4 linked regions of the Homo sapiens genome follow. The protein of the gene in region 1 purifies or fractionates together with the protein of each later gene. This does not show direct contact. Each region holds a gene or a part of one and is shown in the gene's direction. Other genes may lie near its edges. The genes, in order: RCC1, RANGAP1, NAV1 and RGPD8.

Evidence for each region.
Region 2: the proteins of RCC1 (region 1) and RANGAP1 purify together in Homo sapiens (affinity purification with mass spectrometry; 3 studies listed by BioGRID and IntAct, with this or other methods). This does not show direct contact.
Region 3: the proteins of RCC1 (region 1) and NAV1 purify together in Homo sapiens (affinity purification with mass spectrometry; 3 studies listed by BioGRID and IntAct, with this or other methods). This does not show direct contact.
Region 4: the proteins of RCC1 (region 1) and RGPD8 purify together in Homo sapiens (affinity purification with mass spectrometry; 3 studies listed by BioGRID and IntAct, with this or other methods). This does not show direct contact.

The regions. Positions count from the first base shown.
Region 1 is NC_000001.11:28,501,341-28,509,044, forward strand, and holds the start of RCC1 (regulator of chromosome condensation), read left to right. Parts: upstream 1-4,702; 5' UTR 4,703-4,744; intron 4,745-4,879; exon of another isoform or gene 4,880-4,987; intron 4,988-6,024; exon of another isoform or gene 6,025-6,231; intron 6,232-6,787; 5' UTR 6,788-6,820; intron 6,821-7,217; exon of another isoform or gene 7,218-7,422; intron 7,423-7,489; 5' UTR 7,490-7,565; exon of another isoform or gene 7,566-7,704. UniProt on the Homo sapiens protein: Guanine-nucleotide releasing factor that promotes the exchange of Ran-bound GDP by GTP, and thereby plays an important role in RAN-mediated functions in nuclear import and mitosis.
Region 2 is NC_000022.11:41,283,172-41,290,637, reverse strand, and holds the start of RANGAP1 (ran GTPase-activating protein 1), read left to right. Parts: upstream 1-4,450; 5' UTR 4,451-4,652; exon of another isoform or gene 4,653-4,967; coding exon of another isoform or gene 4,968-5,094; exon of another isoform or gene 5,095-5,275; intron 5,276-5,484; exon of another isoform or gene 5,485-5,737; intron 5,738-5,795; exon of another isoform or gene 5,796-5,875; intron 5,876-6,855; exon of another isoform or gene 6,856-7,466. UniProt on the Homo sapiens protein: GTPase activator for RAN. Converts cytoplasmic GTP-bound RAN to GDP-bound RAN, which is essential for RAN-mediated nuclear import and export. Mediates dissociation of cargo from nuclear export complexes containing XPO1, RAN and RANBP2 after nuclear export.
Region 3 is NC_000001.11:201,534,653-201,542,126, forward strand, and holds the start of NAV1 (neuron navigator 1), read left to right. Parts: upstream 1-4,474; 5' UTR 4,475-4,690; intron 4,691-5,366; exon of another isoform or gene 5,367-5,493; intron 5,494-7,474. UniProt on the Homo sapiens protein: May be involved in neuronal migration.
Region 4 is NC_000002.12:112,423,632-112,430,651, reverse strand, and holds part of RGPD8 (RANBP2-like and GRIP domain-containing protein 8), read left to right. Parts: intron 1-6,344; coding exon 6,345-6,412; intron 6,413-7,020.

The DNA.
Region 1 (7,704 bases):
CCCTTTTGAGGTTAAATTGTCTCCAGAAAGCTGTTTTGAAGATGAAGATTGCCCAGTGTTTGCCAAAACAATGAATGAATTTTGGGTCTCTGTGGATTTATATAACTGTACCCCAGGAAAAGGCAGGTCCAGCCCGGTGCAGTGATGCACACCTGTAGTCCCAGCAGCTTGGGAAGCTGAGGTGGAAGGATCAGTTGAGCCCAGGAGTTCAATACCAGCCTGGGCAACATAGACCTTGTCTCTTGAAAAAAGAGGAGCAGGTCCAATGGACACTGAATAGGCAAAGGATGAAATAATAAGCATAAAAAGATGACAATGTGCAACAAAGAAAATCCTATCCTTGAAGCCAAAATACAGCCAGCACCACTGTTTCAACGTTCTATTCCATTTCAGCCCTAGGAGGCATGAAGGGAAAACCAGGAATGACCAGCAACCCAGACCTCTTGCTCCATCTGTCATTTTGTGTGGATATTGTTAATTTCTTCCCCAAAGAATTTTGCCTCCTATGTAGAGCATAGAGGTCATCTGACAGGAACAAACAGCTTTAATGTTCCTTCATTTGGCACTGAGGACACACAGTCCTCAGTGAGGATTGTGGGAGGGGGAGCATTAAATAAATTATTTAATGCTTACCTCCTTCCTACCCTCACCCGCAACAAAGACACAATCTTCCCGTGACCCCAATTTCTCTTCAATCTATTACCCTCTCTCCTGCTTTTCCTATACTCCCTTCACACAATCTATTCCAATGTTAAACAACCCAAGTTCTCAGGCCAGGCAGCTGGGCTAAATGATTGACAGAGGAAGAACTAGTGATGGAGATGTAAACTGAACAGGCTTCTTGGCCTTGCTTCATAACCTCTGGTCTGTGCACATTGTTTTCCCTACCTAAGGCCATATTCACTCAGCTCATTAAAATCTAAACGAAATCCAAACCAATATGGCTTTCCTGTGGTCACCAGGGATTTCTCAGCCTTCGGTTATTGCACTTGGCTGCTTTGCAACATTTGGTGCTTTGGACAATGTTCTAGTCCTCAAAACTCTTCTTCCTTGGCTTCTGAGGCACCGCTGTCTTCTGGTTCTCCTTCCCTGACTGACCTTTCTCTGTGCTGCTGGCTTCTTCCTCGAACACCATTTAAATGCTGGGTTTTCGGCCAGGTGCGATGGTTCACGCCTGTAATCCCAGTACTTTGGGAGGCCGAGGCAGGTGGTTCACCTGAGGTCAGGAGTTCGAGACCAACCTGGCCAACATGGTGAAACCCCATCTCTACTAAAACTACAAAAAAATTAGCTGGGTGTGGTGGCATGTGCCTGTAGTCCCAGGTACTTGGGAGGCTGAGGCACGAGAATTGCTTGAACCCGGGAGGCAGAGGTTGCAGTGAGCCAAGATCACAACACTGCACTCCAGCCTGGGTGACAAGAGTGAGACTCCATCCAAAAATAAATGAATAAAATAAAATAAATGAATGCTGTGTTTTACCGGGTGTGGTGGCTCATGCCTGTGATCCCAGCACTTTCGGAGGCCAAGATTGGCAGATCGCTTCAGGCCAGGAGTTCAAGACCAGCCCGGGCAGTATAGTGAGAGGCCATCTCTACCAAAAATTTAAAAAATTAGCTGAGCATGGTGGTGCATGCCTCTAGTTCCCGTTACTCAGAAGAGGCTGAGGTGAGAGAATCGTTTCAGCCCTGGTGGTCCAGGCTGCAGTAGTCCTGATCACACCACTGCATTCCAACCTCAACAACAGAGCGAGATCTTGTCTCAAAATAAAATAAATGCTGGGGTTTCATGTCTTCCCATCACTCTCCTCATTCTTCCAAGACGACTTTAGCCACCATGCTAATTCTTACAACTTCTAAATATTTTATCACCAACTCAGATTTCTTACAGGAAGCCCAACCCCATATATCTAATTGCTCTTTGGACTTATATACAACCAGATGTTACTCAGGTAACTCGTATATACTCCAATGTGGACATTACTCCTCCCCCACTGCCTGCATTTCCACTTATCAAGGTTAGAGACCATAGTATGTTCAGCCTCCTAAGCCTGAAACTCTGGTATCCTCAAGTTCTTCTCTTACCTTGCAATTCCAGTGGGACGACAAACCCTACATCAGAAATGTCTTTTTTTTTTTTTTTTTTTTTTTTTTTTGAGATAGGTTCTTGCTCTGTTGCCCAGGCTGGAGTGCAGTGGCATGATCACGACTCACTGCAGCCTCCATCTCCTGGGCTCAGGTGATCCTCACACCTCATAAGTAGCTAGGATTACAGGAATGTGCCACTACACTCAGCTAACATTTTTTTTAAAATTTTGTAGGCCGGGGTCGGGCGCAGTGGCTCAAGCCTGTAATCCCAGCACTTTGGGAGGCCGAGGCAGGTGGATCATGAGGTCAGGGGTTCAAGACCAGCCTGACCAACATGCTGAAAACCCGTCTCTACTAAAAATACAAAAATTAGCTGGGCATGGTGGCGGGCGCCTGTAATCCCAGCTACTCAGGAGGCTGAGGCAGGAGAATTGCTTGAACCTGAGAGGCGGAGGTTGCAGTGAGCCGAGATCGCACCACTACACTCCAGCCTGGGGGACAGAGTGAGACTTCATCTAAAAAAAAAAAAAAATTTGTAGGCCGGGCACGGTGGCTCATGCCTGTAATCCCAGCACTTTGGGAGGTCAAGGCGGGCAGATCACGTGGTCAGGAGTTCAAGACCACCCTGGCCAATATGGTGAAACCCCGTCTCTACTGAAAATACAAAAATTGGTGGGGCATGGTGACACTTGCTTGCAGTCCCAGCTACTCGGGAGGCTGAGGCAGGAGAATTGCTTGAACCCAGGAGGCAGAGAATGCAGTGAGCCAAGATCGAGCCACTGCACTCCAGCCTGGGCAACAGAGCAAGACTCCATCTCAAAAAAAAAAAAAAAAAGAATTGCTGCGATAGTAAATAATGTACGTAATAAAGCATTCAGAACAAAATCTAATATGTAGGAGGAACACCATAAACGTTACTACTCAAGATAGCCCAGCTGTGATAGCTCTGTCTCTCTAGCCAACGTTTTTCCACCTTACACCACACTAAAAATTCCATCATATTTGCAACATTTCTTATGTATATATATCGTAAGCATTCTTTACTTGCCTACTTCATATTCAGAGGGTTTTGTGTGTGGTAAAATATACATAAAACTTGCCATTTTTAACTAGTTTAAAATGTATAGGGGGCCAGGTGTGGTGGCTCAGGCCTGTAATCCCAGTACTTTGGGAGGCCAAGGCGGGCATCACTTGAGGTGAGGAGTTCGAGAGCAGCCTGGCCAACATGGTGAAACCCGGTCTCTACTAAAAATACAAAAATTAGCCGGGCATGGTGGCATGCCTATAGTCCCAGCTACTCGGGAGGCTGAGGCAGGAGAACTGGTTGAACCTGGGAGGTGGAGGTTGCAGTGAGCCGAGATCACACCACTTCCTTCCAGCCTGGGCGACAGAGCGAGACTCCGTCTCAAAAAAAAAAAAAAAAAAAAAGTCCAGGTGCGCTGGCTCATGCCTGTAATCTCAGCACTTTGGAGGCCGAGGCGGGTGGATTGCTTGAGGTCAGGAGTTCGAGACCAGCCTGGCCAAGATGGTGAAACCCCGTCTTGCTAAAAATACAAAAATTAGCCAGGCACGGTGGCGGGCGCCTGTAATCCCAGCTACTGGGGAGGCCGAGGCAGGAGAATCGCTTGAACCCGGGAGGCCGGGGTTGCAGTGAGCCGAGACCGCGCCATTCCACTCTAGCCTGGGTGACAGAGCAAAACTCCATCTCGAAAAAAAAAGAAAGAGTATAGGGCAGTGCTTTTAATTACATTCATTCACACTGTTGTGCAATGGAGTTTTTTATTTTTTATTTTTATTTATTTTTATCCGGGCCAGGCCTGGAGTTTTTAAACTTTTATCTGATTCGTCTAGGGGCACTTTCATCTTATTTACCTTCACATTTATCAAATTATTTCTTTCACAGGTGACAGAGCAGATTCAATTCCTTTTGATACTCCGTATTTCTCTATATGTATTTTTTTCATTCTGCATTCTTATTATTCCAACGTTTTACTTATTTATTTGGAGAGAGAGTTTCGCTCTGTCGACCAGGATGGAGTGCATCGGCGCGATCTCGGCTCACTGCAACCACCGCCTCCCAGGTTCAAACGATTCTCATGCTTCAGCCTCCCGAGTAGCTGGGACTGGAGGTGCGCGGCACCATGCCTGGCTTATGTTCTGTATTTTTTGTAGAGACGGGGTTTCGCCATGATGCCCAGGCCGGTCTCGAACTCCTGGCCTCAAGCGATCCGCCCCTCACGGCCTTCAGAGCTGCTGTAATCACAGGCGTGAGCCACCGCGTTCGACTCTTCCAAAAACTTTTTGGCCAGTTTATCTAAGGGCATATCCTACAGACTGAGTCCAGTGATTGCACAGAAGTAAACGTCCTCTGCAGCTACATACCTACAAACCTATTTCTGTAACGTACATTCCCCAGCAAGGTCCCGCGGGAAGGATCCACTACCGCGAGAGGCCTCCCAGCCAGGAAGGGGTGGGGCTCAATCTGCAGTAGATTCCCAGAAGCCTCAGTGAGTTTCTGATTCTCTAACTGCGCATGCTTCTGCGCACGCGCAATAGACATTCCAGGACTTCCGGGCACTTCGTAAGGTTTAAAAAGGATGCTTCGCGTTTTCTCTCTCCTTTTTGGAGACAGATTCGCAGTGGTCGCTTCTTCTCCTTGGTAAGTGTGATCCTTGGTAAGTGTGATCAGATGCTTGCCACCGGAGTTGTGGGTCTAATGCTATAGATCAGTAGCCGAGCTTCCCTAGGAAGATCATATAGTATTTTATTTATTTACTTTTTTTTTTTTTTTGAGACGGAGTCGGTTTGTCACTCAGGCTGGACTGCAGTGCTCGTTGCAACCTCCGCCTGCCGGGTTCAAGCGATTCTCGTGCCTCAGCCTCTCCAGCAGCTGGGATTACAGGCACGTGCCACCACGCCCGGCCAATTTTTGTATTCTTAGTGGAGACGGGGTTTCGCTATGTTGGTCAGGCTGGTTTTGAACTCCTGATTTCCGGTGATCCACCACCCTCGGCCTTCCAAAGTGCTGGGATTACAGGCGTGAGCCACCGCGCCTGGCCGGAAATCATGTAATTTAAAACTATATATGGGTGTCTTAGGCGGCATCGGTCCCAACTCTAAAGTACGCGTTAGACGGGCCTGGGCCAGAAGTGGGCCATGGAGACCTCGGGACCCGCAGGGCTGCCGCCCGACCCAGCGAGCCTCTGAAGGTGCACCGCCACCCCCACTGTTTATCTTACTGCCTCATAGTAGGCACATTGTCGTTCTCAATATAATTGCACACAGTTTTATTCTGGATCCTCATTTGCCTTTAAGAATTTTCTCAATTTTTCTTTTTATTTGATCGCACCACTGCAACCTCCGCCTGCTGGGCTCAAGCAATTCTCCTGCCGCAGCCTCCCGAGTAGCTGGGACTACAGGCGTGTACCACCGCGCCTGGCTTATTTTTGTATTTTTAGTAGAGACGGGATTTCACCATGTTGGCCAGGCTGGTCTCCAACGCCTGACCTTGTGGTCCGCCACGCCAGGCCGAAGATTTTCATAATTTGGAAGCATTGCGTTTCGTAATTATGCTTTCTCGTATTTTTGTGATTTGGGTCATTTTTATTTTTATATTTTTAGGATTACAGGCGTGAGCCATCGTGCCTGGCCGATTTGGGGGTAATTAACAAGTCCACGTGTTTCATTTGAATTTAGGATAGCTGGGCCTAATTGTTGTCTTTGCTTCTGCGGTACCTTCCACATAGTACTAACCGCCTATTGTAAAGTAATTAGAATAGCTGAATATGCATGTTACCAGTCTAGAAACCGATTTTTTTTTAACACCCCACTGTGGACAGGGTGGAAACTCGTTTGCTTTCTTGTTTAAGATCTGTAGTAACATGAATGGATGAAATTGTTTCCTATTGGATTCTGTAAATTTATGCGTTACACTGATTGTCCAACGTGGATACACCCGGGAGGTCACTCTCCCCGGGCTCTGTCCAAGTGGCGTAGGGGAGCATAGGGCTCTGCCCCATGATGTACAAGTCCCTTTCCACAACGTTGGAAATAAAGCTGGGCCTCGTGTCTGCGCCTGCATATTCCTACAGCTTCCCAGAGTCCTGTCGACAATTACTGGGGAGACAAACCATGCAGGAAACAGCCTTCTAGAGCACTGAATCTGGATTGAAGTCTTTTTTTTTTTTTTTTTTTTTGGAGATGGAGTCGCTCTGTTGCCCAGGCTGGAGTGCAGTGGCGCACTCCATTGCCTCTGCCTCCCGGGTTCAAGTGATTATGCTAAGTGATTCTCCTGCCTTGGCCTCCTGAGTAGCTGGGATTACAGGCCCCCGCCACCACGCCAGGCTAATTTTTGTATTTTTAGTAAAGACAGGGTTTCACCATGTTGGTCAGGCTGGTCTCAAACTCCTGACCTTGTGATCCGCCAGCCTCTGGCCTCCCAAAATGTTGGGATTACAGGCGTGAGCCACCACACCTGGCTGGATTGAAGTCTTAATACATGTTTAAGAAAAATTGGCTAAAAAGTAGCCAGGCATGATGATAGGTAGCTGGAGGAAGGAGAATCGCTGGAGCCCAGGAGTGACCTATACTCAAACCTATACTCCAGTGCCACTGTACTCCAACCCCAGGCGATAGCATGAGGCCCCTCGTTGAAAAAGTTTAGGGTTTTGCTGTACTAATAGATTAATATCTTGTTTTGCAGGATTTGTTAAGGATTCCAAGTAACTCTTATTTGGTGAGTAAATCTGCTAATTGTTTTTTGCTTATCAGCTCTTTGTCAATGATTTCTGTAATGGAAATAGGATTGAAGAGACTTTTATTCTAGTTGGTCAGGATTTACCTCTGAGGCATTTAATCATTCTCAGAGCAATAGCCAAATATCGACTTTGCTGCATTTTTGTAGGCATGTTGACATAACTTCAACATATGCTCTGTTCTGTAAAAATTGCTTTTTTTAGTCAGCTCATTAAAAGTGCAAAGTAGTAAAAGCTGCCCTAGTGAACTGTAGGAAGCCTAATTGGCTTTATCTACATGTGTAGCCTGAGCTGAGAAAGATACTAGCCCTTGAAAATACTGTGGGTGATTAGCAATATTGGATTTGTCGGTTACTCCAATTCCTCACTAATGAGCATTCCAACGTGGATACCCTGGGAGGTCACTCTCCCCAGGCTCTGTCCAAGTGGCATAGGGGAGCTTAGGGCTCTGCCCCATGATGTACAGTCCCTTTCCACAACGTTGAAGATGAAGCTGGGCCTCGTGTCTGCGCCTGCATATTCCTACAGCTTCCCAGAGTCCTGTGGACAATGACTGGGGAGACAAACCATGCAGGAAACATATCTAGTATACTAGATTTTAAGTTGAAGTAGGATCTTCAGGAGTCTAATCATTATTTCTTTTCTTTTAGGAGAGAAGACGATCTGCACTTCGCATTTTGGCATTGACATTTAATTTTAGGGTCCTTTATATAGAAGGGAGAGTAGGTAAACTGATTTTTTTTTTTAACAGGGAGGGTTTGACAATCTTTGGCAGACTTGGAGCAAAAGATTGAGGTGCATTTCATGCCTCCTTTTGAGAGTCTTGCTCTGTCGCCCAGGCTGTAGTGCAGTGGCGCAATCTTGG
Region 2 (7,466 bases), on another chromosome or scaffold:
AGGCTGCACAACAGAGAAAGGCCTGGAACACTCTCTGCTTCTCCTGATTCCCCCTTAAACTCACCTCGCACTCACAAGTGAAGTGTATATGTTGAAAACAACCCTAGAAGGCCGGAAATGGTGGCTCACACCTGTAATCCCAGCACTTTGGGAAGCCAAGGTGGGTGGATCACCTGAGTCAGGAGTTTGAGACTAGCCTGGACAACACAGTGAAACCCCATCTCTACTAAAAATGCAAAAATAAGCTGGGCATGGTGGTGGGAACCTGTAATCCCAGCTACTCGGGAGTCTTAGGCAGGAGAATCGTTTGAACCCGGGAGGCAGAGGTTACAGTGAGCCTTGATTGTGCCATTGCACTCCAGCCTGGGTGACAGAGTGAGACTCCATCTCAAAAAAAAAAAAAAAAAAGTAATAATAATAATAGAAAAGGACCCTAGAGACCTGTCTTCTATTCTCTTTCTCTCTCTCTCTCTCTCTCTTTTTTTTTTTTCTTTGAGACAGGGTCTTGTTCTATCATTCAGGCTGGAGTGCAGTGGCCTGACCATGGCTCACTGCAACCAACCTCCACGTTCTGGGCTCAAGGATCCTCCTGCATCAGCCTCCCTAGTAGCTGGGACTCCAAGTATGTACCACCATGCCTGGCTAATTGTTTTTAGTAGAGACAGAGTCTCACTATATTGCCCAGACTGGTCTCAAATCCTGGGCTTTAGCAATCTTCCTGCCTTGGCCTCCCACAGTGCTGGCATTACAGTTGGTTGTGAGCCACCATGCTCAGCCTTGTCTCATGTGTAAGTCACACTGTAACTTGGGCCTTAGTTCTTCATTTGTTGAAATAAGGAACAAGATAGTCTTGGATGACACTATCCATCTGTCAAAGGCCATGATTACACTTCTTGGGCCAGGCAGACTAGCTCTCAGGTGATAACTTGAAAGAGAGAAAGCTGGAGAAAGGGCTGGAAGGAGAAAGAGAGAAGATAAGTGTGTTGCTTGGAAACAGTGATGATTCTTTTTTTTGAGGCAGAATTTTGCTCTTGTTGCCTAGGCTGGAGTGCAATGGCGTGATCTCAGCTCACTGCAACCTCCGCCTCTTGGGTTCAAGAGATTCTCCTGCCCCAGCCTCCCGAGTAGCTGGGATTACAGGTGTCTGCCACCATGCCCAGCTAATTTTTTGTATTTTTAGTAGAGACAGGGTTTCACCATGTTGGCCAGGCTGGTCTCGAATTCCTGACGTCAGATGATCCACCTGCCTCGCCCTCCCGAAGTGCTGGGATTACAGGCATGAGCCACTGTGCCCGGCCAGAAACAGTGATGATTCTTGATTCTTCTGATTCACTGGGCACCCTTGGGCAAACCCCCTGTTCCTTTTCAAACCCCAGTCTCCCCATTTGTAAAGAGGTTTAAGATAGATTCAGGAGGCCGGCCACAGTGGCTCACGCCTGTACTGTACTCCCAGCACTTTGGGAGGCCGAGGTAAGTGGATCACCAGGTCAGGAGTTTGAGACCATCCTGGCCAATATGGTGAAACCGTCTCTACTAAAAATACAAAAATTAGCCGGGCGTGGTGGCGTGCACCTGTAGTCCCAGCTACTCGGGAGGCTGAGGCAGAAGAATCACTTGAACCTGGGAGGCGGAGGTTGCAGTGAGCTGAGATCGCACCACTGCACTCCAGCCTGAGCAACAGAGTGAAACTCCATCTCAAAAAAAAAAAAAAAAAAAATCAGGATATAGGAGTGACAGAATCCAGATTGCTAGGGGGTGCTGTCAGGCTGAGTTTGTGATTTTTAGCTTCGAATGTGAACACCTTCAGGCAGAACATCCACTCTCTAACTCCCCCCAAGCCCCACCAAGCCCCGACAAGCCCCATGACTTCCTGTTACCTCCCAGGTCCTTGAAGGCCACTGAATTTCTGTTGTCTAAGAATTCCCTTCCAGTTCCGAAAACCCAATGTCCTATCAGCTGGATGAGGACGGGATCAGCTAAGATGTTCCCCTGCCCACCTTCCTCTTCCCTTTGGGAGGTCTCTGTGTGAGGGCCAAGGAAAGTCTCAAGAAGTAAAATTGGAAAAGGGAGCCTGCGGATCACCCCAAGGAAAATCCAGACTGATTCGATCAGTCCTAGCTGGAAGCAGCACAGGAATAGCAGGAAGCCTATGACTCATTTTAAGCAAACATCCGGTAACCCGACTGGTATCTGGTTCAAATGGGGAAACCTGAAGCACCTATGACAGGCCAGGCCCAGAGAAGATACTGCCCAGATGGATACAGCGTCTGCTCTGGAGACCCTCCCAGGCTGAGGAGGAAACTGCCAAGAACAGTGTTAACTCTGTCAAAGAGCCCCAGAGTCCCAGGCCAACTGCTGTGGGGCTTTGCATCTTGCTGTGGGCACCTGCAGGAGGGAGAGACTCATGAAGTAGCATTTGACATGGGCCTTGTAGGTAAAAAGGAGAGGGAAGGTGGAAAGAGGATCCACATCTCAGGAACTTTGAGAACTGGGAGAGTTACACTCTGTCTAGAGCTTCAGTTTTCTCATCTCTGTGCTGGGAAGGGTGGTAATGATGCCCACTTCCCTTGTGGTGGTGAAGATTAAATGAGCTGTGTGTAAAAGGATATGGCATGATCTGTTAATTAATTAATTAATTTATTTATTTATTTAGAGACGGAGTTTCGCTCTTGTTGCCCAGGCTGGAGTGCAATGGTGCGTCTCGGCTCACTGCAACCTCCGCCTCCCGGGTTCAAGCGATTCTTCTGCCTCAGCCTCCCGAGTAGCTGGGATTCCAGGCATGCGTCACCATGCCCAGCTAATTTTATATTTTTAGTAGAGACGGGGTTTCTCCATTTTGGTCAGGCTGGTCTCAAACTCCTGACCTCAGGTGATCCGCCCGCCTCGGCCTCCCAAAGTGCTGGGATTACAGGTGTGAGCCACTGCGCCCAGCCTGCATGATCTGTTTAACTTTTTTTTTTTTTCTTTTTTCAGTTTTTGAGACAAGGTCTTGCTCTGTCGCCAGGGCTGAAATGCAGTGGTGCAATCACGGCTCACTGCAGCCTCAAGCTCCCAGGCTCCAGATCCTCCTGCCTCAGGCCCTTAGCTGAGACTACAGGCTTGCACCATCACGTCCAACTAATTTTTGTATTTTTTGTCGAGACAGGGTTTGACCATGTTGCCCAGGCTGGTCTCACACTCTCTCGCCTATAATCCCAACACTTTGGGAGGCCAAGATGGGCAACAAGAGTGAAACTCCATCTCAAAAAAAAAAAACAAAAAAAAAACGCTGTTTGTGTTTTTATGCTTAAATTCACACCTACAGAAAAGTTGCAAAAATGTTCAAAGAACTCCCATATTCTTCAACCAGATTAACTGATTAACATTTTGCCACATTTGTGTCTCTGCTTTCTCTATGTATATGTATAGGTATATTTCTTTTAACCATAAAGGTTGCAGACATCATGTCCTTTTTGTCCCTAATTATTTCAGCATTTTTTTCCAAGAACAAGGGCAGTCTCTTACATAACCCTGTACCATAATCAAAATTAATAAATTTAACATTGATACAATACTATTATCTAATATAGTCAAGTTTTGCTGTTTCAGTATTGTCCTTTATAGCAATCCCCACCCAGGATCCGATCCAGGACCATGTCTTGCATTCAGTTGTCTTTTTCGTTTCCTGTAATCGGCAACAGTTCCTCAGTTTTTCTTTGTCTTACATAATACAGACATTTCCGGAAGGGTACAGATCAGTTATTCTGTACCATGTCCCTCAGCTTGGGTTTCTCATGATTAGACTAAGGTCATGCATTATAGACCGGACGGTGACGCCGTGTTTTTCTCAGTGCATCACACAGAAAGCGTGCGATGAATGTCAGCTTGTCCTGCTGTTGATGTTAACGTGGCCGTTCAAGTGGTGTCTGCGGAGCTTCTCTACGATAGTTACTATTTCCCCTTTTTAATTATCAGGTAATTTGTGCATATTTATGTGGAAGCCTTCGAATGCCCTTTCAGTTTCATGGGACGGAAAAGAGTCTTTTCTTTCGGGAAATGGATACCTGTGTCTTGCCCAAGAGACCCAGCAGCCAGCAGTACCTGTTATCAACAAAGTTACGCGAACAAAACCTTTCCGGAAGAGCTGAGGGACCTGGGTGCAACGCATTCTGGGAATTGTAGTCTCTGGGCGCTCCCGGCTGAACACCTCCCTGCGGTCTCTGCGAGAAAGAGCCAGAAGCCACCAGGGGAGGGCGAAGAGGAGGGCGGTGGAGGACGCTCTGCGCGCGGTGCGCCATGGGACGGGTAGTTCGCGGTGCGCGCCCCATCGCGCTCCCAGATGGGGAACCGGACTACTCTACCCGAGAGGCCGCGCGAGCGGGGCGAGGGCAAGCCGGCCGGGGCCTCGAACAAATCAAATCGAAGCAAAGAAACTGCCGGCTTTCAAAATCCTCCTCCTCCGCCATCATCCGCCGCGGTGCGGAGAGCAGGTGGTGCTGGAAGCGCGTGAGGCCGGGAGCTCGAGAGAGCTAACAGACTAGCCGGCTGGACATCTGGACCGCTGGATCCGGAGGTGGCGACCCCGGCCTGACCCGGACCCTAAATCCGTCCCCGCCCCAGAGGGCGGAGGCGCGCGCTCGATTCCCCCCACGCGGCGGCGCCGCCTGTTTACGGTAGAGTCAGGGTCCCTTTCCTTTCCCCGTCACCTGCCTGGAACAGGGGTGCGGGGCGAGGAGGGCGTGGCGCCCGTGTGCGCCTTCTGCCTGCCCCCTCGGCCTTCTTCACTTAGCCTTCGACGGCCGAGCGCCCCAGGGGTGGCGGTGGGAGTGGGGTTGTTGAGCGGCGCTGGCTCCTTTCACAAATGGGGAAACTGAGGCTTAAAGGGCGTCTGACTCGCCAGAGCAGCTCAGCCTGCAGCTGCTAGCAGTGGCGTCTCATATTAGCATTGTTGTCAACCGGAGGCGGTGCGAGTCCGCCGGGGATTCCAGATGGGGCTCCTGCGCCGCCCGCCTATCATTTGCGGCCTGTATTCGCGCGTCGCTCCCGCAGAGCCACCTCCCAGCAGGCCCACGCCCGCGGGGGCCCCGGGCTGGCGCCGCTGTCCCTGGAATCGATGTGAGTCACTGCTGACGCTTTGCAGGAGCATGCATCTCACCTCAGAAAGTCTCTGACGTTGCTGCGGAGCGGGGAGAGGATGTTTCTCTATTAGCCCTTTGCTTTTGCTCTGGCGCTGATCCTTTGCTGACCTTGGACAAATCAATTTACGTTTCTGTGCTCCAGTTTCTTGGTTTATAAAGTGAGTGTGGAGGGGTGCATCTCTGTCTCGCTCTCTCTTGGACTGAGGAATGGGCCCCCGTTCAGCTGAGAAGTTCTGTCCCTATTCTATCTGGAGGCTTCACCACCACCTTTTACCCTCAAATTGTCCCATCTCAGAACTGCAAGAGATGCTGGGGTTTCAGGTTAATTTTTTTGTTGGTTTTTCTTTAAATTTTTTTATCTTTTTAGAGACGGTCTCCTTCTGTCACCCAGGCTGGAGTGTAGTGGAACGATCACCGCTGAACTGCAGCGTCGGCTTCCTGGGCTCAAGCGATCCTCCCACCTCAACCTCCCAAGTCATGGGGACTACAGATGCCATCACACCTGGCTAATTTTTAAATTTTTCTGTGGAGACAGGGTCTCATTCTGTTGCCCAGGCTTGTCTCGAACCCTGGTCTAAAGTGATCTTCCCGCCTAGCCTCCCAAAATGTTGGAATTACAGGTGTGAGTTATTGCACTGGGCTGGTTTCTGGTTAATTTATTTTTTGAAACAGGGTCTCCAGAAGTACAGCAGCAAGATCTCAGCTCACTGTAGCCTCCACCTACGGGGCTCAAGTGATCCTCCCACCTTACATCCCAGGTAGCTGGGACTGCAGGCACCTGCCACCACACCCAGCTAGTTTTTGTATTTTTAGTGGAGACAGGGTTTCGGCATACTGCCCAGGCTGGTTTCTAACTCCTGTGCTCAATCGATCCGCCCACCTCAGCCTCCGGAAATGCTGGGATTGCAGGAGTGAACCATTACACCCGACTCTGGTTAATTTTTTTTTTTTTTGAGACGGAGTTTCACTCTTGTTGCCCACGTTGGAGTGCAATGCCACGATCTCAGCTCACCCCAACATCTGCCTCCCAGATTCAAGCGATTCTCCTGCCTCAGCCTCCTGAGTAGCTGGGATTACAGGCATGTGCCACCACGCCCGGTTAATTTTGTATTTTTGGTAGAGACAGGGTTTCTCCATGTTGGCCAGGGTGGTCTCGAACTCCCGACCTCAGGTAATCCACCCACCTCAGCCTCCCAAAGTGCTGAGATTATAGGCGTGAGCTACCGCACCCGGCCTGGTTAATTTTTATTTTATTTTATTTTATTTTATTTTTTTGAGGTGAGTCTCGCTCTGTTGCCCAGGCTGGAGTGCAGTGGCGCAATCTCAGCTCACTGCAAGCTCCACCTACCGGGTTCATGCCATTCTCTTGCCTCAGCCTCCCGAGTAGCTGGGACTACAGGCCCCCGCCACCAGGCCCGGCTAATTTTTTGTATTTTTAGTGGAGACGGGTTTCACCGTGTTAGCCAGGATGGTCTCGATCTCCTGACCTCGTGATCCGCCCACCTCAGCCTCCCAAAGTACTAGGATTATAGGTGTGAGCCTTTGCGCCCGGCCCTGGCCTGGTTAATTTTTATGCAATTTCAACTGGTCGTTTCTTGAGCACCTTCTAAATGCCAGGCTCTATGTGGCAAGTAGAGTGATCCTGTCAAAATGTACGTCAGATGACATCTGCTTTCTGCTAAAAACTTCAGTGGTTTTCCTTGTCACTTATAGCGAAAGCCACTGTTCTTCAAATGGGCTTTATGACTTGGGCCCCTTGTTAACTGTCTCTTCTCTTACCTTGTTTTTTTCCTCTCTCTCTGTGCTTCAGCCCCACTGGCCCTGTTGCAGTTTCTCCAACCCTCTGCCCCTACAAGAGCCATTGCATTTGCTATTCCCTTTGCAGGAATCATGTTCCCCCAGATGTGTGCATGGCCCAATCCCTGATATCTTTATTTAACTATTTCCTAATAATGCCTTTTTGTTGTTGTTGTTAATGCCTTTTTGTTGTTGTTGTTGTTATTTGTTTGTTTTGAGTTGGAGTCTTGCTCTGTCGCCAGGCTGGAATGCAATGGCGCGATCTTGGCTCACTGCAACCTCCGCCTCCCGGGTTCAAGCAATTCTCCTGCCTCAACCTCCCGAGTAGCTGGGACTAAAGGCGTGTGCCACCACGCCCAGCTAATTTTTGTATTTTTAGTAGAGACGGGGTTTCACCATGTTGGCCTGGCTGGTCTTGAACTCCTGACCTCGTGATCCACCTGCCTCGGTCTCCCAAAGTGCTGAGATTACAGCCGTGAACCACCACTCCCGGCCCCCCAACCCCCCCCTTTTTTTTTTAAATCACATACTAAATGTGTCATTTAGAACATA
Region 3 (7,474 bases), about 170 Mb from region 1:
TTCTGGTCATGGCTGCAGAACTCTGTAGATTTAGAGTTGTATATTTCGAGTGGGTGAATTTTATAATATGTAAATTGTACCTCAATAAAGCTGTTGAAAAGAAATAAAGAAATGTGCTGAACTAGTACATGATCAAGCTCTCCACACTGCTATGGAGACTATCAAGACTCCTTTCCTCTGCATATATGTAGTATTTGAAAACATGGACTCAGGAGCCAGACTCCTTCAGTTCAAATCCTACCTCTATCACTTACTAGCTGAGACCCAGACAAGACACTTGACCTCAATTTCTTTACCTGTAAAGTGGAGATAAAAAGTGGTACAGATTTCATAGGGTTGTTGTGGAGATTAAATGGGTTAATATATGTTAAATGCTTAGCATAGCAGTTGGCACACAGCAAATGCTATATAAGTAGGGACTATTATTATCTTCCATACCACAGGATTGCCACAGCCAGAACCAGGCTTCTTAAAGGGGCAGGTTTTCTCCCTGCAAACCCAACCCCTATTCTCCTGGGCCCCTTAAAGAAACACCTCCTCTTCAAAGGCCATCTTTGGAAAAACACCACGATGGCTTTCAGTACATCTCACTTCCTGGTAACAGAGAGAGAGTGAGAAACAGCATCTTCCCGATAAGGCAGTGACTCGCTCACTCTCGTAAAACATTCATTACTCTGACAGCTTTTCCCCATGGACTCTTTCTCCCAGGTCCCTGTAAGCTCCAACAGTCAACACAGAGGGCCCTTCTTAAAGGGGGCCCAGGGCCAGTCATGAGGCCCGAGTGGCCAAGGATGGAGATGCCTGTTTTGCCCATGTCCAACCCCATTCCACTAGCCTAGGAAACCCCTCACTGGTTAATGAATCAAGCTAGAAAGGACAAGGATTTTTAGTGGCCAGTCAGATTTCTATCACTGAAAAATGGGTTTTCAAGCACTGAGCCCATAACCACAGTGAATTTGACTGGGGTGGGGAGGTGGGGCGGGGTTGGGAATATGAGCTGATGCTTTCTGTTTGATAATCCCACTTCTGCTTATATGTGAGCAGCACTGCAGAAACCATTTTCTCCTCCATGATCTCACTGAATACTCACCATGCCCTTGGTAGGTGGGTATTCTTGTCCTCTGGGTGTCAACACTCCCTTTTACTGATGAGCAAACTGAGGTGATGCACTTCAGCCAGCATCAGAACCAAGGCATGGAGTCAGGTCTTCTGAAGCTGGGCCCAGTGTTTTTCCACTGTGCTTCAGAGGAGGAAGTCAGAAGCTGCCTCGGACTCCTCCTTAGAAGCTCCAGTGACGCTTATTAAGTGCTCAAGAAAATAAAGCAATGTGCTATCTTCATATTCCTGCCAAGGACCTTACAAACTGCTCTGGGAGCCCCAAACAAGACAGTCCGAAGGATAAAGACAGTCTCCCTGTGGGCCACGTGGAACGCAGGAGCTGTGAGTGTGTTCAAATCCTCAAAGTCCCATGTCAGATAACCCAAGAAACAAATTAGCATTGGTCCACAGACCTCAAGGCGGCAGGAAAACAGGCAAAGCCCCCAAAGAAATCAGGCTGGGGCTGAAAATGTCACTTGCCATACTTCCTGGGGTTCCCAAAACTCTCATCTCGTCGGAGGCCGGATCTGATACTCTATGGGAGTGACAGCAAGCTTCTGGGCTGATTTTTTAAAACTTATTTGTCAGGTTGACATTAATCCTTTCGCTACCCATCTTGTCCCAAAGCAGGATTGGCTCTAAGCTGTGGAGGAGGGGAACAGAGGGGCTGTTGGGTTTTAAGGAGCCTCAGTGAGGCCAGCAGGTCCTGGAGGCCACCTTCTCGGTGGGGAGTGGGGGTACAGGTGACTATGCCAAGGGTCTCCTGCAGTGAACCTGAATCTCCCTCCTTCCATCACTCACAAATCATTTCACGCCCCAGCACCTCTCCCACTCTCTCCATCCTCCCCTCCCCACAGCGAGGTCCTTGCCTTTACCTCTTATTGATTTTCATATTTAAGGAAAATCCATTTGCTAGACTCAGAGCAACTGAGTCATCACTGTGTTCAGACAAAAACTACTCACAAAGTAGGCATTTGGCAGAGGCCACTTCTGGGATGGGCGGGACCCTGTTTCTTACCCAAACAGTGCTCTGTCCAGAGTCTCTTCTGGCTTCTCCTCCCTGCCGCTCTGTCCTATCCACTTTCTCTTTCAGTAGCTTTCATATCCTCTGCCTGTCACCCCAACCAGACTGGCCCCTTTACTCCTTCCTCCCTCAACCTGTCCATATGCTATTATGTTTGCCTACACATACAGGTTCACTGTTGGAAATCTGTGAGTGGGACATTTTTCTGAATTTTTATTTTAGATTCAGGGGGTACATATGCAGGCTTGTTACCTGGGTATATTGTGTGATGCTGAGGCTTGGGGTACAAATGATCCCGTCACCCATATTGATTGGGACATTAGGAGCAGGGTGAGGGAGAACTTGTATGAGCAGCCACTCATAAGTGGGAGAGAAATATTGATCCTGTGTACTGATAGAAGAGATCTAACCCTTACGAAATTATAGCTTTGGCTTTCTTTTCCATTCTGGGTAGCACCCAAGGAATGACATCATCCCAGCATTACCAATGTGGATGGGGGCTATGCATCCAGCCTCACAATGGGTCAAGGAGTCATTTCACCTTCTGATAGTCATTTGCATACCTACTGTGTGGTCCTTGGTCCCTGGGGTCCCACCTTTTGAGCTCTCAAGAAAGGACAGTGCTTCTTCTTAAAGGACTAGGCTCCCCTTTGCAGGACTGGGAAGAGCACAAAAGGATTCTAGCTAGCACATCATTGAATGCCAAACTGGGCGCAGAGTTACATCTCCAAGAGTTAGATCTCCAAGAGTTAGATCTCCAAGAGTTAGTTACTCCAAGATCAAAGTAACAGCTAATGTTCACTGAGCATTTACTATGTGCCAAGCACTATTCTAAGTGTGTCACCTATAGTATCGCATTTAATCCTCCCAACACTCTTAGGAGATAGGAACCATTATTATCCCATTTTACAGATAAAGAAACTGAGGTAGCTAGAGGTTAAAGAGTTCAGTAAGTTCCCATGGCTAAAAAATCATTGATCCAGGATTTGAACTCATGCAGTCTGCCTTAAGAGCCCACACTTCTAGTCTTTATACAGAGGGTAAGGGTGTCACTCTGCAGTCCACCCCCTTATCCCGCGCCAAAAGGCAGTTCACTCCCTTCATGGACAAAAATCATACAACAAATCTTTTTCCCTGATCAGTTGGGAACTTCTTGAATGTCACTGCTTGTCCATTGTCTGGTGTCTCATCTCTCCAAATTCAAAGCCACTGTGGCCTTACTGACTGTGTGGGGCGTTCAGGGAGGACTCAAGGGCTCTCATCCTGACTCTGCTCACACTGATTTTGCTGGCAAAGAGCTGTGAGACCTCCCAGGGAGTAGGCAGTTTTGCTTTCTATCCATCAGTCCTCCAACTTGCAACCCCATGGCCCTGGGAATAGATCAGTCCTCTTATTTGTTGGCAGGAGCAGGGGAATCTGCTGGGTCCTTGGCCACAGCTACTCCCTTTCCAAAGCCTGCTTCAAAGCTCAGGTCATCTGGCTTCCTTCTGCCTTCTTCCTGCAGACCCTGGAAGTCCCCAAGCCAGGAGGCAGGGGGCTTGCACTGCTTCTGCAGTAGGTTCTGGCTGAGGGCCTTCCTCCCATTCACTCTCCTCAGGTCCTGTCATTTCCTCTCTCCTCTTCTTCCCCCTCCTCCCACTCCCAAGTCCCTGGAAGAAGGAGGAGGGGCATCGGCTGTCTGGAAGGTGGGGAGAAGTCACTTATTTTACTGAGCACCTACTATTTGCGGGGCACTTGCGGGGCCTCCCCCTCCTCTAAGACAGCTCAGACAGCATGACAGTTCAGTGGGGTGGAGAAAGAAAGGAGGTGGGTGCCCGGGGTCAGAAGTCGGGTGGAGAGGCTGGCCCATCCATCTGTCCCCTTCTCCTAAAGAACTGCGGCTGAACCAGCGAGCGGTACCCGGACGACATGTGGGGGAGGGAGGAAACCCGGCCTGGAAGTGGCGGTGGCGGGTCCCCGGGCAAAGGAAAGGCTCAATTGTGCAAAGGCTTCCTGCCCTGCCAGCTCGCGGGTCCGCCACCGAGCAGCCGCCTTTCTGCGGCCAGCCTGGGAGGCGGGACGGGAAGGCGAAGGCAGCAAAGGGTTACGGGAATAGCTTTCCAATGACAAAGTCTGGAAGGGACCCATGCCTCCGCCCCTCTGCGGGTTAAACTGGCACAGTGCAGGGGGAGGAAAGCCAGGGCGATCGGACGGATTCTCTCCTCCTGCCCGCCCCCCGGCCGCCAGGCACTCCCCTCCTGGGCCCGCCGTGGAGGCAGCCGGCGTGTGCCTGGGGCAGCGGGTCACGAGGCTCCGCCCCGGCCGCCGTTCCCGAGGGGACGGCACTTTGTTCAGGATGCCGCCTCCCTCCTCATTGTGGGGCCGGGGCCGGCGGCTGCCCTAGTGCGGGGCCCGAGGCTGGAGTGCGCGGCGGACGCCAAGCCTGGTGCGAGGGGCCGAGGCGGCCTGGGGAGCCCCGGGAAACTTTGTGCTCGCGAGAAGCGGACCCCGCACCCGCGCTGCCCTTGGGGATGCGCGACTCTGCGCGGCTGCGGCGCGGACCCGGAGCCCGGGCGGGCAGGCGCTCCGGTGAGTGGCCGGCGCGGGGCGGTCGCGCGGTCGCGGCGCTGAGGGTCTGGCGCTTCCCGTTTTGCGAGGCTTGGCTGGCAGGTCCTGCGAGGCCGAGACCAAGTCTCGGGGTAGGGGAGGTTGGTGCCCGAGGGAGGCTGTGGGCTGGGCTCGGGAGAGGCGCTGGAATAAATAACAACCAAGATGCTCGCGGCTTCCCGGGAAGGTGTGTGCCCTTTCGACCCCTATGGGACTGACTGCGCGTTTGATTCTAGAGTTGACTCTCCGGGGGGGCTGCCTAACTTCAGTCCCTCTGAGCCTCAGTTTCCTTGTTGTGAAATACCCACAATTTAAAGTGCGTTGAGATCTTATCATGAGACACCAGGTGCTGCGTTCTTATACTCGCACCCACACGGCAAGCACACACCCTACCCGCACCTCTGCCTTTCGTTGAAGCAAGAGTTAACTCCTCCCATCCCAGCAGGAGCCAGAGGAACAGCTGGGGCAGGTGACCTCGCGGGCCGTTCCAGAAAACGTTCCCCGCACCCCCGGGATGCGCCGGGAAGCGCCCTCCCGCCAATCTCCCGGAGGCCGTCCTCTCTGGCGCCCGCCCAGTGCGTCTGGGAGCGGAGAAAGTGGTCCCGGAGGAGAGGGGAGAGAGGAGAACGCAGAAATTGGGTGATCACGGGGAGCTCACCTGAGCGCTCCCGAGGCTTGGGCTCTGGTCCCTGCTAATCCCCAGAGCCGATAAAAACTGGTCATAGGATAAAGAAGCAGCTAAGTTTGCAGCGGGCAGAGGGGAGGCAGGAACTGGAGAGGACGCGAGTGGCGGGTGGCGGGGGCGGTGTGTAGGGGTGACGTCCACCCGGCAGAGAGGGTTCCTTGTCCCCTGGAGCCGAACACAGGAAAATCAGCTGGTGAGTCAATGGGACTTTGTTAGGATAGTCACAGGGCGCAGCTGGCGCCGGCTTAAGGGAAGAGCTGGATCCCCCCTTGATAACATGCTGTTTATCTGGCTTCCTGTTTCAATGATTGGGATACCATTGGCTCGTTCAAATTCAATGCTGAGAAGCCTGTGGGCACGTTCGTTCACTGTGCAAAAGCAGAGGGCTTGCCTGGGTTTTCATCTGTGGGCTAGCTCTTGTTCCCCCTACATGAAGTCCCCGGCAACTCACTTGTAATGGGACTGGAGACTTCGCAAAAAGAATGGCCTCCCCAGGAGGAGGATCTGACGATCTGACACTGCAGAGACCTTGGCTTCCTTTAGGCCAGAGATATATATGATTCCAGCTTGCTTATGACATTTTTTTAAATCCTGCTTTGACTTTTTGTTGGTGTGTCTTTGGGATTGACCTAAGAAGGGAGACAGAGGGAACAGCTCTATGGATTTTGTCTTCTAAGATGAGCTTCCTAGTAGTATGTGCTTTCACCATCAGTTTTTAGGGGAAGTTTTCAATCATCAGTTTGTAGTTCTCTATCTGGCTGTGTTGCTAACCACCTGGATGATCAGAGAGCAAATAATTCCTCATGTCTCTGTCCTGGTTTTCACTTCTGTAAAGTGGAGCCAGGAAAAAATCGCTACGGTTGGAAGAATAAAGAAGGTTTTTCAGATTTGGGCTCCAGCCCCTAGGGTCTATTTCCTGAACTTTCCAGGTGAAAGAGAACACCAGGTGAAAGAGAACACCATTTCCGGGTGAAAGAGAACAGCCCCTGATCTGAACTTCTTCAGCAGTTTATCTGATTTCCCTTGGGGCAGGTCTCACATTCTGCTTTGCATTTTTTGTTTTTGTTGATTGTCAGTGTGCCATGCTTTGTATTTTAGATATTTGGGTGTTTGTGCACATGCCTATCTTCCTGTGAGTACCTTCCAGCCAAACACCCTATCTGACCACCCACAACACTCAGCACACAGTAGGCACTTTATAGATGCTTGCCAAACTAATAGAATTGGGGAGAAAAACTAAGTAGCATTCAAAGGCCTCCTATCTCATTTAAGTGCCATTTATTCATTCTTTGGGAGTTAATTTGCTCCCCCAGACCCCCTCTACTTCTTTTTCCCTCAAAAGCAGTTCATAAAAATGTTGATTTGCCCATGGGTAAGTAGGCAAGCTTTGAATATTTGGGCTTTTTCTGGGATCTGGCTTCTTTGATAAACCTTGGCCTGGGGAAACTGAAAACAAGAATGCTGTTTTGGCCAGGTGCGGTGGCTCATGCCCGTAAGAGGGGCGGATCACCTGAGGTCAGGAGTTCGAGACCAGCCTGGACAACGTGGTGAAACCCTGTCTCAACTAGAAATATGAAAATTAGCCGGGTGTGGTGGCAGGTGCCTGTAATCCCAGCTACTCGTGAGGCTGAGACAGGAGAATTGCTTGAACCCGGGAGGCAGAGGTTGCAGTAAGCCGAGATCATGCCATTGCACTCCAGCCTGGGGGCCAAGAGTGAAACTCCATCTTTTTTTTAAAGGAGTGCTGTTTTTCCTTTCTTGCCTAATCTAGCCCCCTCCTGAGTCCCTGTGAACCTCTGGTATCAACTCAGTTTGGGCCCAGTAGAAAGGAGTGGCCTAGAATAGAAAAATCTCCTATCCATCTTTTACAATTTGTCTCTATTTTTGCCTTCCTATTTCCAATCAGTGTCACTTCCCTCTTCTTTTAAAGTTCTTTTGACTTCTTGAAGGGTTTGGCCTTTAAGAAAAACCAGAATGTCAAAGTTAAAAGGATCTCCACTCCTCCCAACCCCTGCTCTTCTCCCCTTTACAGGCAAGAATCAAGGCCCACTGAAGGGAAGGGATGGGCTCAGAGCTACACA
Region 4 (7,020 bases), on another chromosome or scaffold:
AAAAAAAGCAACCTTAGAGCCTTTCTGAGATTCTTAGTGGGGACCTTGGCTTCCAAAAGATTAAAAACCACTGGTCTAGACAGAAGTCAGAATGTTCTTTCAACTACATAACTTCTCCATTAAATAAAGTGGAGTGGTAGCAACATTTTGACGATTGGTTATTATGACCACCTCTCTTACACTTAGAGTCTTTTTTTCCCCCCCAAATTTAAAGTCATTTACATTAGAACCTGGGGATTTCAGCGGAATATGGATTAACTAGTGAGTAACTGGAACATGTGAAGCTATTCTGTAAAGTTAGGTTTGAGTGAAATGACAAAACAGGGTGCTTTGGATAGAAGGTAAAGAATGGAGGGAGAAGAGGCAGTGGCTGTGAAGAATATGAAGAGGTTAGTATTCTCCCCCAGTTTGGCAGAGGCTGGCCATCTGTGAACTGCCCATGCCTTCTAGAATGTCGGAGTTTTGGTGTGTGATGATGCGTCTGTATATCATATCTTTCTAGTCTTCCATTGTGCTTTCATTTGTTAGTCTTCTCTTGTTTTGCCATTTTTCTACTCCCTCACATGTGCTTTTGCCCTTCTTAAAAATATTCTTCGTCTGTAATCCGAGCACTTTGGGAGGCCGAGAGACCAGCCTGACCAATATGGTGAAAATCTGTCTCTATTAAAAATACAAAAATGAGCCGGGCGTGGTGGCAGCGCCTGTAGTCCCACCTACTCGGTAGGCTGAGACAGGAGAATTGCTTGAACCCTGGAGGCAGAGGTTGTGGTGAGCAGAGATTGCGCCACTGCACTCCAGCCTGTGTGACAGAGCGAGACTCTGTCTCCAAAAAAGAAAAAAGGAAAAAAATATAATTCTTTCTCTAGTTTTTCTTTTTCCCGATGGCTTCTGTTTAGTTTTTCTATGTTCTGTCAAGTCGATTTCTTATTCTGCAGCTGATTCCTACTTCTCAAAGTCTACTTGACAGCTCTTATTTTTATTTATTTGTTTTTTAGAATAGGGTCTTGCTGTGTTGCTCATCAAATTTTTGGGCGTAAATGATCCTCCTACCTCTGTTTCCTGAGTACTTAGGACTACAGGCAGGCACCTTTGACAGCTGTTAGTTGTTTTTTCTGCCCTTTACATCTATACTTCATACTTCTGAGTAACACACATATATACTTTTGTTATTTTTAATTCCCTTTCTCCCATTTTAGACATTTTCTTTTCTTTTCTTTTTTTTTTTTTTTTTTTTTTGAGACGGAGTCTGGCTCTATCGTCCAGGCTGGAGTGCAGTGTCGCGATCTCGGCTCACTGCAAACTCTGCCTCCGGGGTTCACGCCATTCTCCTGCCCCAGCCTGTAGCTGGGACTACAGGCACCCGCCACAACACTCGGCTAATTTTTTAGCATTTTTAGTAGAGACGGAGTTTCACCGTGTTAGCCAGGATAGTCTCAATCTCCTGACCTCATGATCCGCCCGCCTCAGCCTCCCAAAGTGCTGGGATTACAGGCGTGAGCCACCGCGCCCGGCCCCATTTTAGACATTCTGTACTGGCTATTATGCTCCTCCAAAACTGTCCTCAGACACTTTGGTTTGCCCCTCATTCTTTCAGTACTGTTACTGCAGTTTTTGTTTAAATGAATAGTTAACATTTATATAAATAGAAGGTAAATATTTTTGCATTTGAATTGCCCTTGTTGTGCAGTTTTTTGTTGTTTTTTTTATTATACTTTAAGTTTTAGGGTACATGTGCACATTGTGCAGGTTAGTTACATATGTATACATGTGCCATGCTGGTGTGCTGCACCCACGTTTTCCTGGACTGAATAATTGCTTTATTTTTTGGTTTGCTTGTATGTTGTGTTACTACTTGCTTACTTAAACTCAGCAATTTAAACCCTCAAATGTGGTCAAACTGGTCACATAATCCCATCAATTTCAGCTTAAAACATTGATTGATTGATTGATTGTCTGTCTACCTGGAATACCCTTACTAACCAACTTCTCCAACCCGGATTGGTTTTTCTTCCTCTTTGCTACACAGCTGTGCTCTTGGGACTTCCCTTTATCACCAGTTTGAGAATTCCCTTCATCTTTTTTCTGAGTTAGACCCTTTGTTTCTTGTATCTCATGTCCTCTTCATTTACTTTCTTTGTTTTGGTGTAGCATAGTCTCACTTGCTTTGAGGAAAAGTGGATGAGAGGTTTTTTTGTTTGTTTTTGTTATGGGACAGAGTCTTGCTCTGTTGCCCAGGCTGGAGTGCAGTGGCATGGTCTCAGCTCACCGCAACCTCCGCCTCCCAGGTTCAAGTGATTCTCCTGCCTCAGCCTCCCGAGTAGCGGGATTACAGGTGTGCGCCACCATGCCCGGCTAATTTTTTCTATTTTTAGTAGAGATGGGATTTCACCATACTGGTCAGGCTGGTCTAGAAACTAATGGTATGTCTTTAAAACATCTTTACTTAATTTAGTTGATCATTTGGTTATCGAATTCTGAGTTTCAAATAATTTTTTTTGCAATTTTGAAAGCATTGCTCCATTTTCTAGAAGTTCTGTTGTTAGGAGTCCCATGAGATTCTTGTTCTTGGTAACTTAAAGGTTTTCTGGAAGTGTCCTTTCAATTGGGAAACTCATTTCTTTCAGTTCTGTAGCATTTCTTGTATTATTTCTTTGACCATTTCTTACCCTTTTTTTTAATGATGTTTACCTGAAAGCTGGAGTTTCTCTAATTTTTCTCTTATTCTCCTCTTTTGTTTGTTCTGCCTTTTGAGAGATTTCCTTACCCTTATGTTCCAGGGGAAGAAGATTGGGGAACTCATGGTTCAGTATCTAGACTTTTCCTCATTGTCCTGTATAATCACGGCCTTCACCCTTGTTGGGACTCCACAGATTTGGAGCTGATCAGATGGGTTTGTTGAGAACAGCAGCTTTTTTGGAGGATTTTAGGGGGAGGGAGATTCATTTGACTGTGCAAGATGGGCGACAGGGTGAGACTCCGTTTGAATTAAAAAAAAAAGAGAGAAATTTAGAACTGCATAATGAAAAAGTAGGCCACAAATATTAAGTTTTGGACAATTACAATTACATCTCTATCTTACTGTGCAAGATAGCGATGATGTGGCATCTCTTAGGGTCTTACTGTTCCTGTTTTCAGCCCTGCATCAGTTCTTGATATTTGGCAGCTTAAGTGAATTCAGGTATTTGCTTATAGTGACATCTGCTGTCATGTAAAGAAGTACTGCTTGCATCAGATATTGTCCTGTTTACATAACATGGGCTGTGCTCCTTTCTAGCTGTATATCTTTAAACAAGGCATTTGTCTGCTTGAGCTTCAGTTCCCTTGTAAAGTGAGCAGGTTAGAGGCAAAAGATCATATAGAAGAATAATTTGTAAAGTTGTTTAATTATCTTAAGATTGTCTACTTTAATAACATAGTTGGAAGCAAAGAAGGTAATGGAATTATTTTTCTATTATGTTTTAACATAGTTGGAAGCAAAGAAGGTAATGGAATTATTTTTCTATTATGTTTTGGCATTGTACCTTGAATCTATTTCTTCATTTTGAAAAGGGGGAACTGGCCGGGCTCGGTGGCTGATGCCTGTAATCCCAGCACTTTGGGAGGCGGAAGAAGTCAGATCACAAGGTCGAGAGATCGACACCATCTTGGCCAACATGGTGAAACCCCATCTCTACTGAAAATACAAAAATTAGCTGGGCATGGTGGCGTGCGCCTGTAGTCCCAGCTTGTACCCGGGACGCAGAGGTTGCAGTGAGCTGAGATCGAGCCACCGCACTCCAGCCTGGCGACAGAGCAAGACTCCATCTCAAAAAAAAAAAAAAAAAGGAAGGGGGGAACAGGACTTGTTCCTTTATGTGCTGTCCTGACTGTTGTGTATTATTTTTGTTAAGATTGCTATAGTTCTTTTTTTTTTTGAGACGGAGTCTTGCTCTGTCGCCAGTGCTGGGATTGCAGGTGTTAGCCTGGCATTGAGCAAGGTTTTGTAATTTAAGCATACAAGTCTCTCACCTCCTTGTTTACATTTATTCCCAGGCATTTTTTTCTTTTAGATGCGATTGTAAATGGAATTGCTTTCTTAATTTCATTTTCTGATTGTTCGTTGCTGGTACAGTAGTCCCTTCTTATCCACAGTATTGCCTTACGTGGTTTTACTTACCTGCGTCACCCGTGGTCCAAAAATATTGAATGGAAGATTATATAAATAAACATTTCATGAGTTTTAAATTGCAAACAGGTCTGAATAACATGATAAAAATCTCACGGCCTCCTGCTCCGTCCTACCCAGGACACGAATCATCCCTTTGTCCAACATATTCATGCTGTATGTGCTCCCCACCCGCTAGTTACATACTAGCCACCTCAGTTATCAGATCAGTTGTTGGAGTATTGCAGTGCTTGTGTTCAAGTGACCTTTATTTTATTTAAAATGGCACCAAAGAGCAAGAATAGCGATGCTGGCAGTTCACATATGCCAGAGAGAAGCCATATAGTGCTTCCTTTAAGTGAAGAGGTGAGTTTTTGACTTAGGAAAGAAAAAAGATCATATACTGGGGTTGCTGAGATCTATGGTAAGAACAAATCTTTTGTCCATGAAATTGTGAAGAAGGAAAAAGAAATTTGTGCTAGTTTTGTTGTGACACCCCAAACTGCAAAAGTTACAGCCACAGTGTGTGATAAGTGCTTAGTTGAGATGGACAAGACATTAAATTTGTGGGTGGAGGACACAAACAGGAAACATGTTTCGATTGATGGCAACCTGGTTTGGTACTATTCATCGTTTTGGACATTCACTGGGGTCTTGGAATTTCAAAAATAAGATGTTTGAGTAGCTGTATACTCTATCACATGGATGGAACATACTCTGGTTGTATCAGCATTTTTTTTTTTTTTTTTTTGAGATGGAATCATTCTGTTGCCCAGGTTGGAGTTCAGTGGTGCGATCTTGGCCCACTGCAGCCTCTGCCTCCCGGGTTCAAGTGATTCTTTGCCTCAGCCTCCCAAGCAGCGGGGATTACAGGCGTGTGCCACCATGCCCAGCTAATTTTTGTATTTTTAGTAGAAAGGAGGTTTCTGTATGTTGGCCAGGCTGGTCTCGAACTCTTGGCTTCAAGTGATCCACCCGCCTCAGTCTCCGAAAGTGCTGGGATTACAGGTGTGAGCCACCGCACCCAGCCTGGTGTGCATCAGCATTTTGGACTTTGGAGTTTATGTAACCAAGGATCCAGGCTGTGGACCTCGTTTATTACTTGAAGAATTCAATATTTATTTCTGCCTTTTTGACTCCTTGACTGTAAAATACTGATCTGATCTGTAGAGAGAACAGTACATGGACCCGGGAATCCTCAGTGCCTTAATAGATCCTAAGTACTTATTTATTCTTTCCCATAGAGGCTTACACATGGTAGGAGAAGAGATTTCTGGAATACCTTTCCTCCCCAAAGAAAGCTGGTTTCTTTTGTTTGTTAAGTGAGAGAGTGGTACCACAGGGTTTCCGAGATTTCCAAGGCTGATGAAAATTCTTAACTTCTGTTGTCTGCTTGTCTTGCTTTCTTGAATTTATTTTTTGTATGTTATGTATTTATTATTTAGAGAGAGGATCTCCCTGTGTCACCCAGGCTGGAGTGCAGTGTCACAGTCATAACTCACGGCAGTGTCAACCTCCTGGGCTCAAGTGATTCTCCTTCCTTGGCCTCCTGAGTAGCTAGGAACACAGGCATGCTCCACTATGCCTGGCTATTTTTTTCCCCCTGGAGACAGGATCTTGTTGTGTTGCACAGGCTGGTTTCAAACTCTTGGCCTCAAAGCTAGCCTCCCACCTTGGTCTCTGAAAGTGCTAGAATTAAATAGAATTAAAGGTGTGACCAACTGCACCCAGCTTATTTATGATGATGATGATGATGATGATGATGATGATGTTTGGGAGATGGAGTCTCTGTCGCCCAGGCTGGAGTGCAATGGCACGATCTCAGCTGACTGCAACCTCTGGCTCACTGCAACCTCCACCTCCTGGGTTCAACTGATTTTTGTGCCTTAGCCTCCTGAGTAGCTGGGATTACAGGCACCCGCCATCATGCCTGGCTAATTTTTCTATTTTTGTAGAGACGGGGTTTCACCATGTTAGCCAGGCTGGTCTCAAACTCCTGACCTCAGGTGATCCGCCCACTTCGGCCTCCCAAAGTGCTGGGATTACAGGCATGAGCCGCTGCACCCAGCTCTATTTTTTGTTTTGTGGTAGGAAATTATAAAACATGGAATTATGCATTTGTCAGGCTTTAACTACTTTTGAAAAAATGTTGGAAAATATTTCTGTATGAAACATAAAACAACTTTTAATTTTTTTTTAGAAGTCAATGAAAGGATTCTATTTTGCAAAGCTGTATTATGAAGCTAAAGAATATGATCTTGCTAAAAAGTAAGTACAAACCGTAACATGTATTCTTTTTTTTAAAATCAATGCCTTTTCTCATTTTCTTCTTTGAAATAGGTAAAAATATGTTCTTAGTAGTTCTTCCTAAGTGTATTCTGGAATAAGGGATTTATCACTCAGACTGATGCTAAGGACCAGCCTAGATTCCATTGAGATTGAAACTGCAATTAGTGTTTTCTGCATGCTGCTGCTTTATACCAAGGGCAAGAAATTGTTTGGCTTAAAACACTTTTTCTAAAAATTGTCTTCTGTTGGAGTAAAAGAGGACCATGCCTATATCTTAATTTGTTTTTGGTTAGATATCTGATACCTTAATCAGATGGAAAATAGCAATGAATAAAAAACTAAACTGTAATTGTAAGGCAGGAGAATAGCTTGTATAAAAGATCTTTAATTGACACAATATGTGATGCTGTAAGGCTCTATCCTAGGGATAAGAAGCTTGGTGATTCTGATTTCCTGGCTGGGAGTGGATTAAAGCAGGAAATTAAGAGGGAGGCAGGCTTTTTTTTTTTTTTAGGCAGTATCTGTCTCTCTTGCTCCGGCTGGAGTGCAGCAGCTGGCTCCATCTTTGCTCACTGTAACCTCTGCCT